Homo sapiens: one gene and its partner. The protein of the gene in region 2 interacts with the protein of the main gene of each other region in a pairwise test. Each region holds a gene or a part of one and is shown on either strand. Other genes may lie near its edges.

Region 1 (4,253 bases), on a different chromosome or scaffold from region 2:
CTGATGGGAATGGAAAGTAGAGCAGCTTCTTTGGAAAAGTCTGGCAGTCCTTCAAAAAGCTACACGTAGAGTTACCATCTGACCAGCAGTGCCACTTCTAGGAATATACCAAAGAAAATTGAAACATATGTCCACACAAAACTTATATATGAATGTTCATAGCAGCATTATTCATAATAGCCAAAACATTGATACCACCCAGATATCCATCAGCTGATGAAGGAATAAACATCATCTGTTCATCCAATGGAATATTACTAATATTATTATATTATACTGATACATGCTACAGCATGGATAAATTTTGAAAACATGCTACATTGGAGAAGCCAGGCACAAAAGGCCACATATTACATGATTCTGTTTATGTGAAATGTCCAGAATAAGCAAATCCATAGAGACAGAAAGTAGATGAGAAAGTAGACTAGAAGCTGGGAGAAGGGGCAATGGGAGTGACTGCTAATAGGTACAGAGTTTCTTATAGAGGTGCTGAAAGTGTACTGGAATTAGAAGAGATGGTTGTACAATTTGGGGAATATATGAAAAGCCACTGAATTGTACAGTTTCAAAAGGTAAATATTATGGGATGTGAATTATGTCTCAATAAATGTAGATGAAAAAGTTTAAAGAGATTGGCTAGCACATGGCATTATGGCATAATTGTGTAATGGCTTTTTCTAGAGCAGAAGATAAAGCAGGGTTTTAAATGTATTTACTATAATATTTTCCATTTCTCTTAGGATTCCCCCAAGACAGCACAACTTCTGCAGGCCTTATAAGGGACTATAAATCAAGTTAATGAAAAATATTTCCCCACTCCTCCATATAACTCTAAGTTTAATTCCTTTTTACTTTGTAGGTATGGGATAACAAAAACAGTATAGCTATCACATTTTTTAAAAAAGATACATGCAAACACACCCCCCAAAGACAGTGTAGATATCACGTTTTTAAAAAAAGATTATACACACACCCCATTATGTTAGAATCAGATATTCCCTGGACAGTAGAAAGCATTTCATTGGATAAAGTCTTTATAGAATATCCCGATTGGCAGAGCTTCATGAGCTCTGAAGAACAATGAGAATGCTCATGGAATTTTCATTTTATACCTAACATGTATAAGGGCATGTCAACTCGTAATCAATAAATTTTACATAGGTCAAACTAAGCCTCTGCAGAACTGTGTTATCTATTTGTGGTTTTACTCTTTTAGGCCTTCTCAAAGTTCTAATCTTATTTTTAAACTTGCTGTCAAGTGTTCCAAAATTACTGTGGTGTTGTAGATTCCCACTGAAAACATCATCTCTTATTCAGAGAATAAACATGTTTTAATTATTAAAAAAAAAAAAGTTTGGGTGTTAAGCAGACTGGCCCATTAGGAAGTCAGTTTCCCATGATCAGAGAAGACCTCTAATGTTGGTAAAGGCTGAAGGACTTTTGTTTGATGGTATCAAGAAGTAAAATAAAGTTGTAGGTTAAAAAATGTCAGTTTTGCATGTTTATTCATAGTTCATAATGAATGAGACTCTAAGATACTGTTTTATGGGAGTTAGGAAGGATAGTAATGAACTTTGATAACCAGTAGATAGTTGATTCCTATGATCATGGTTATGGTGGCTTTAATCTAAATGATACCCTCTTATTGGGCCTGTATGTTGTGATATAACCATGAGTGCTCTTCCCTTAGTGCTTCCAAGTACCAAAGTCAGATGCAGTTTCTCTTTGTGGTAGTCGTATTTCTCATTGATAAAGTTCTGAAAACCAGAATCAGTGTTTTTATGGTATTTGCACTACCTTATTTTCAACTAGACTAGCCTTTATGCAGAAGAGAAATGAACATATTCTGTCTTACTGTACAAGATAGAACTAACACCAATAGGAAGAAACTATTAAGAATTCCTAATGACTAGGCCAGCTGTGGTGGCTCATGCCTGTAATCCCAGCACTTTGGGAGGTCAAGGCAGGTGGATCACCTAAACTCAGGAGTTCAAGACCAGCCTGGGCAACATGGCGAAACCCTGTCTCTACCAAAAATACAAAAATTAGCCAGCCATGGTGGCATGCACCTGTAGTCCCAGCTACCTGGGGGGCTGAGGCAGGAGGATTGCTTGAGCTGGGGAGGTGGAGGTTTCAGTGAGCTGAGATCGCATCACTGTATTCCAGCCTGGGCGGCAGAGTGAGATTCTGTCTCCAAAAAAAAAAAAGAATTTCTGATGACTAGACGAGTCCACATGTACAACAGGCTGAGGAGTAACCTTCCATTATTAGAGAATTACAATTAAAGAAGGAATTCCTTCATTGGTCAGATTATTGAACTAAATTAATAAAAATTCCCTTTTAACTTCAAGATTCACACACACTGTATAAGTGACTTTTTAGATTTACTCATCTTCCCCCCTCCCCCCAACAGACATTTACTTTCTCAGTTCTAGGGCCTAGAAGTCTGAGATCAAGGTGTCACAAAGTTGGTTTCTTCTAAGGCCTCTCTGCTTGACTTGTAGATGACTGTCCTCTTCAGGTGTCATCACCTGCATGTCTGCTTATTCGTATTAACACATTCTTAAATTATGAGTCTGCACTTTGAATCTTCTAAATTTAACATAACAAGAATGTGTTGTGGTTTAATATCTTGATGGAGACAACTCATAACCTATTTCAAGACTTCTGCTCAGGACACCTTAAAAAAAAATAGAGATGGTGTCTCGCTATGTTACCCAGGCTGGTCCCGAACTCCTGGGCTCAAGTGATCCTCCCTCCTTGGCCTGCAAAAGTGTCGGGATTACAGGCATGAGCTACCACGCCCAGCCAGGACCTTTTAAATAGAATTTTTAACTTGAGTTTACTAAATTCTAAACCAAGAGAAACATACTCATTACCATTTAGCAATTTACAGTTTAGTATATATTGTTCAGATACGTAAGCATGTAAGAGTGTGTATATATATATATGTGTGTGTGTGTGTGTGTGTGTGTGTGTGTGTGTGTGTGTATTTGGTCTTTTCTAAATAGTAGCCCTGTGGTTTTATGTTTTTGGAATTGCTGTGTTTTTTTAATGCCCTTTTTGCTCTTTCTTCTTCCACAGTGCCATGGAAAGCCATTCACTCCTCAATCCCAACCTGCAGCAAGGTGAAGGAGTCCTCTCCAGCTTCCGAACCACGTGGCAGGAGTTTGTGGAGGATCTGGGCTTCTGGAGAGTATTGCTGTTGATCTTCGTCATTGCTTTGCTGTCTCTTGGCATTGCTTATTATGTGAGTGGGGTGCTACCCTTCGTGGAAAACCAGCCTGAACTGGTGCATTAAAGGAGCTCATGGAAGATGAGGCAATTAATTGCCTGTTTCCTGGCTTCCAATGTTTGTTCTCAGTTTCTCAGAATTTTTCTTAGCGCAAAGCAGTGAGGGCAGTACATGTTCTTTTTGCATTTTTAATTATTGTAATCCTTTTAGATAATGATGTGTTCATTTGAACTAACTACATACTATGATCAAGTATATTGCATCCTAACGCTACCTCTGACTCAACCTGACTTTGTAGGAAAGCCTACACGTAGCCTTGTTTGATAAAAACACGGAAGTGACTAGAGAATGGAAGATAAAGGAAGAAGCTAGGAAGTCCTTGCTATCAAAACCTTATCCTAATATAGGACCAATTGAAGTATTCAAAAAGAAAAACAGTATCTTATATGATTAGTTTTTGTTGGTGGTTTTGTTTTCATTTATTTTTGCAAGAGCCACTTTTTATTTACTTTCTCTAGGGATAAGAGATAAAACTTGAAGTACTTTTTTCAAATCTTGTGTGCAAATTAGTATTGTTAGCATCTATTTGGCTTATTTTAGTATTTTTAAGTCTAGTCACAAACCAAACAAAACTTTTGAAAATGAGCTATATTTTGTTCAAAGATAATTGATTTGATCTTATATTTATTTGTTTTTAGGATAATTTTTGATCTTTTTGTAAACTGCTTTGCTTGTTAATATCTGTGAAAAATAAATGAGTTCATTTTGTTCACTTTCCAATTTTCCCGAGTATCCTAGTCATCAAAGATAACAGTTCATCAGAATTACAGTCAGAAAATCCTTTTTCTACTGAATAGTTAGCAGGGAAAAATAATTCTGATATTTAACTGTCATAATTCTGTAGTGCTATTATAGTGAAAAACTCAGTTCTATAAGCTAGCTGTGTTGTCACAGTTTTATCATAGTTCATAATTATTTCATGTGCAATCCTATTTGGAGGCCCTGTTAGACTTTTAAC
Region 2 (3,877 bases):
TCGCAGGTCCCCTCCATGTTCTAGGGGAAGGATTCAACAGGGTGTGTACACCAGTGGATGGGAATCTTAGAGGCTATATTAGAATTCTACCTGCCACACACAGCTAGCAAGTGGCAGCTCCAATACTCAAATGCAGCTCTTCTGACTTAGAAGTCTATGCCTTCAATCCAGCTGAGGCAAAGGATACAAGAACTAAGAAACTGGCAGGTCTTAGGAGGACCAAACTGGGTATAGTATGTGAAGTGTCTAGCACAGTGCCTGGACCACAGTGGAGGCTCCATTCTTGCAGTGGCCATCCCCAAAGGCCAAGATGGTGGCTTTGATACTCTGTCTTGATCCTTGGAGCAGCCCTGAGGTGAGTGAATTGCAGCAGATTCTTTGGCTGTTTGGTTTGAATTCTGCACCTGGCTAGAAGAGAAAGCCCAATAGAAATGCCTTCTTGGCCAGGTGCAGTGGCTGACGCCTGTAATCCCAGCACTTTGGGAGGCTGAGGTGGAAGATTGCTTAAGCCCAGGATTTTGAAACCACAGTGAGTTATGATTGCACCACTGGACTCCAACTTGGGCAATAGAGCGAGATCTTGTCATTCATTCATGTACACATACATACATACATGGGGTTCTCCTTAAATAGGCAGATAAAAAACATTTATCTAAACTATCTTCCTAATCCTCAAATAAAAGCATACACATATAAAAGCTATAAATAAAGCCCAAAGACAGAAGAGGAAATAACAAATCAGTCAACAAAATATTGGAAAATAAAAAGTGAACAGGCTGGGCATGGTGGCTCACGCCTGTAATCCCAGCACTGTGGGAGGCCATGGTGGGCAGACTGAGCCCAGGAGTCTGAGACCAGCCTGGGCAACATAGCGAGACCCTACCTCTACAAAAAAAAAAAAATGCCTTCTCATACTCCTATACCCCCACACCCCCTGCCAGAACATAAAATCAACCTACCCTTGTTGTTCCCCTGCCCTTTGGTTCTACTTTCCCTCCCCTCCAATGAAGAAAGGCACAAAGTCAGGAGTTGATGCTGCATCTTTTTTTTTTTTTTTTTGGTTTTGCTTTCTTAAAGCATGTGCTGAGCTGATGAAGAGAGCAGTTTGGCAATTAAAAAGGCCCAGCGGCTTGGGCAGCAGCAGGGGGGTGCCAGGTGAGGGTCAGGTAGTCCCTCTTTCCTGGGCCAGGGAGCAGCAAAGCCCGCACTAACTTCATAAAATATAAAACAAGGGAGGGGCGAAGGGAAGAGGGAGATTTGTAAAATACAATATCTTAGGGGATTGGCAATAATAAAAAATAAGGTTCATTATTTACAAACAATTTCTGTTCTTGGTCTCTGTACAGTGGGGGTGGGGTAAGGGGTGTCTGTGAGTGGGGTGCGTTGATGTGTCTGTTTGGGTGCAGGTGTGGGGGCAGGGAGGCAGTGGTCGTGTTGGGCATATGAGAGAGGAGGTGGGGTACCCAGTGAGTGGTTTGTCTGAGAAGGACGGATGGATGTTGGTGGGAAGGAGAATGAGAACAGAGTGGTCGGCCCAAGGGAAGAGTCCAAATGTCAGGGGCAAGGAAGGGCTGGGAAGTGGAGCCTTTTCTCCTGGAATGGGAAGCTCCAGGAGGCAGGGGCACGAGGCGGATCCGGGTTAGTGAGCAAGAACTCCTCTTCTGGGTACCAGGGGTCCGTCCTATGTCCTGGGTCTTGGCATGGCCTAGGAGAGTTTGATGGTGGTGTTGGGGCCCAGATCCCTGGAGAGAGAAGAGAGGCCAGCGATGACTGTCCAGCAGGAACCCTCTTACCCTCTGCAAGCTGGATCTAGACCAAGTAGGGATGGGGCCTTGGGAGGGTGTGGCCAATGTGGGGACCAAGGGTGGGCAGGAGGCAGGTGGAGCCTGAGACCTCAGGAGGGAAAGGGGCCACACACCCCACCTGTCGTGGAACCACTCCTTGGAGTGGGAGAAGTCGGGGCTGGTGCCGTTTCCACCGTCTTTAGGCCAGGCCTCACTCAGGTACTTGGTGGTCTCGTGGGTGCTGTCCAGGTGATCATGCTGCAGGTGGTCCCGGGGCCGCTGCTCTGCCGGCCCCCCGGGGTTGATTTCCCAGCCATCTGGGGGCTCCATGGGCAGCAGGGTGCTGCGGCCATCTTCCCATAAGCCTGCCCCGTCATCGTAGAATAGGAGGCTTCGGGAGGGCACTGGAGAGGGAGTGTAGGATGAGCGGTGTGCCCAAGATTCCCTCAACATCCTGGCCACATTCATGGCCTAGTGGTTAAGGACGCAGGCCCTGGATCTGAGTCCCAGCTCTGACACTTCCCGGATGTGTGACCTCAGGTAAGCCACACACTTTGCTTTAAACTTTCTGAGCCTCAGTGTGCTCTTCTGTAAAATAGGGATACTAGGACCAACCTCATGTAAATGAGAGGTTTAAATGAGGTAATACAGGGGAAGTGATTGAAACTGTGTTCAGGAAATACTCAGAAAAGTCACCTCTTCCTAGCAGAGGGTACTGAGTTTGGGCATCTGGGAGCTGTGTTCTAACCTCCACCACTTACTTGCTCTATCTCCCTTTTTTTTTTTTTTGAGACAGAGTCTTGCTCTGTCGCCCAGGCTGGAGTGCAATGGCAGGATCTTGACTCCCTGCAATCTCCGCCTCCCGAGCTCAAGCGACTCTCCTGCCTCAGCCTCCCGAGTAGCTGGGACTACAGGTGTGTGCCACCATACCTGGCTACTTTTTGTATTTTTAGTAGAGACGGGGTTTCACCATGTTGGCCAGGCTGATCTTGAACTCCTGGGCCTCAAGTGATCCTCCCACCTTGGCCTCCCAAAGTGCTGAGATTACCGGAGTGAGTTACCGCACCCGGCCAGTCCACCACTTACTTTCTGTGAGACCTGGAATAAGTCTCTTCCCCATTCTAGATCCTAATTTGCCCTTCAGAGAAGGAAAACAAACATTTGTTGGACACCCATCATTTGTTAGGCATTATCCAAGGCCCATAGACCTAAGTAGAGTGGTTAAAATCTTAGAGAAACTCTAGGGAATGAGGTTTCTTTAGCCCCGCTTCCCAGAGGAGGCAGCTGAAGTTCCAGGCACTCAGGGAAATTGTCCTCCCTGAAGGGAGGATGCGAACCCAGGTCTGCCTGGCCCTGGGATCTGCTGCCCCTCCGGCTCTGCAGCCATGACCTCATAGTCTGTGTGAACAGAGGTCCCTGGAACTGCGCAGTGCGCCAGCTCTGCAAACCAGCCTGCTCCAAAGCCATCTGCCTGCTGGGATGTGTCTTCCTCTCCACCCAGCCCAGGTCCTGGGCCTAAAACCCACTGCCTTCCCTCCAAGGGGCTCATTCATTGCCTCCTCTCACTGTGGCTTTATCCATCAACCCCAGCTCTCTTTCCACTCCTTTTTCTCCAGTGGCTTCTGTGGCCTTGGAAAAGCAGACACATGGCTCTCCAGACCTTGCATTGCTGCTGCCCACCCGCCTTTAGTGACCACCCCGTTCTCTCCTCCTCAGCCTGCACGTGTCCGGGGAGGAGCTTTCACTCTCCCTGTCTCTACTTCCTCTTTCCCTAACCCTCCCCACACCAGCTTCCTCCCCTCAAGGCCCTCAACGTCTAGCTCATCCTCCCTGCTATATCCCTCCTTCTTGAAACTCACTCCTTAATCTTCCCTCCTCTGACCTCCCATCTGTTTCCTCTTCCTCCTCCTGTCCTGCCAGACACGTGGTTCTTGGTAAGTGACTGACTGGTAAGTGATGAGGGACAGCCAGGAAGTTCCTCTGTGGGTCCACCTGAAGGATTCTCTGCGTCTGAAATCCACACTCTTCTTTGCTGGGCCCTACCCTGGTTCTCCCTTTGCCAGCTACTGTGATGTAGCTATTCTCTCCTCCGT

What was found.
Region 1: the proteins of CREB3L1 (region 2) and ANKRD46 interact in binary tests that used the Homo sapiens proteins (3 or more experiments, as listed by UniProt).

What each region holds. Positions count from the first base shown.
Region 1 is NC_000008.11:100,521,603-100,525,855, reverse strand, and holds part of ANKRD46 (ankyrin repeat domain-containing protein 46), read left to right. Parts: intron 1-3,084; coding exon 3,085-3,301; 3' UTR 3,302-4,253.
Region 2 is NC_000011.10:46,318,575-46,322,451, reverse strand, and holds the end of CREB3L1 (cyclic AMP-responsive element-binding protein 3-like protein 1), read right to left. Parts: intron 2,189-3,877; coding exon 1,924-2,188; intron 1,743-1,923; coding exon 1,706-1,742; coding exon of another isoform or gene 1,555-1,705; 3' UTR 1,043-1,554; downstream 1-1,042.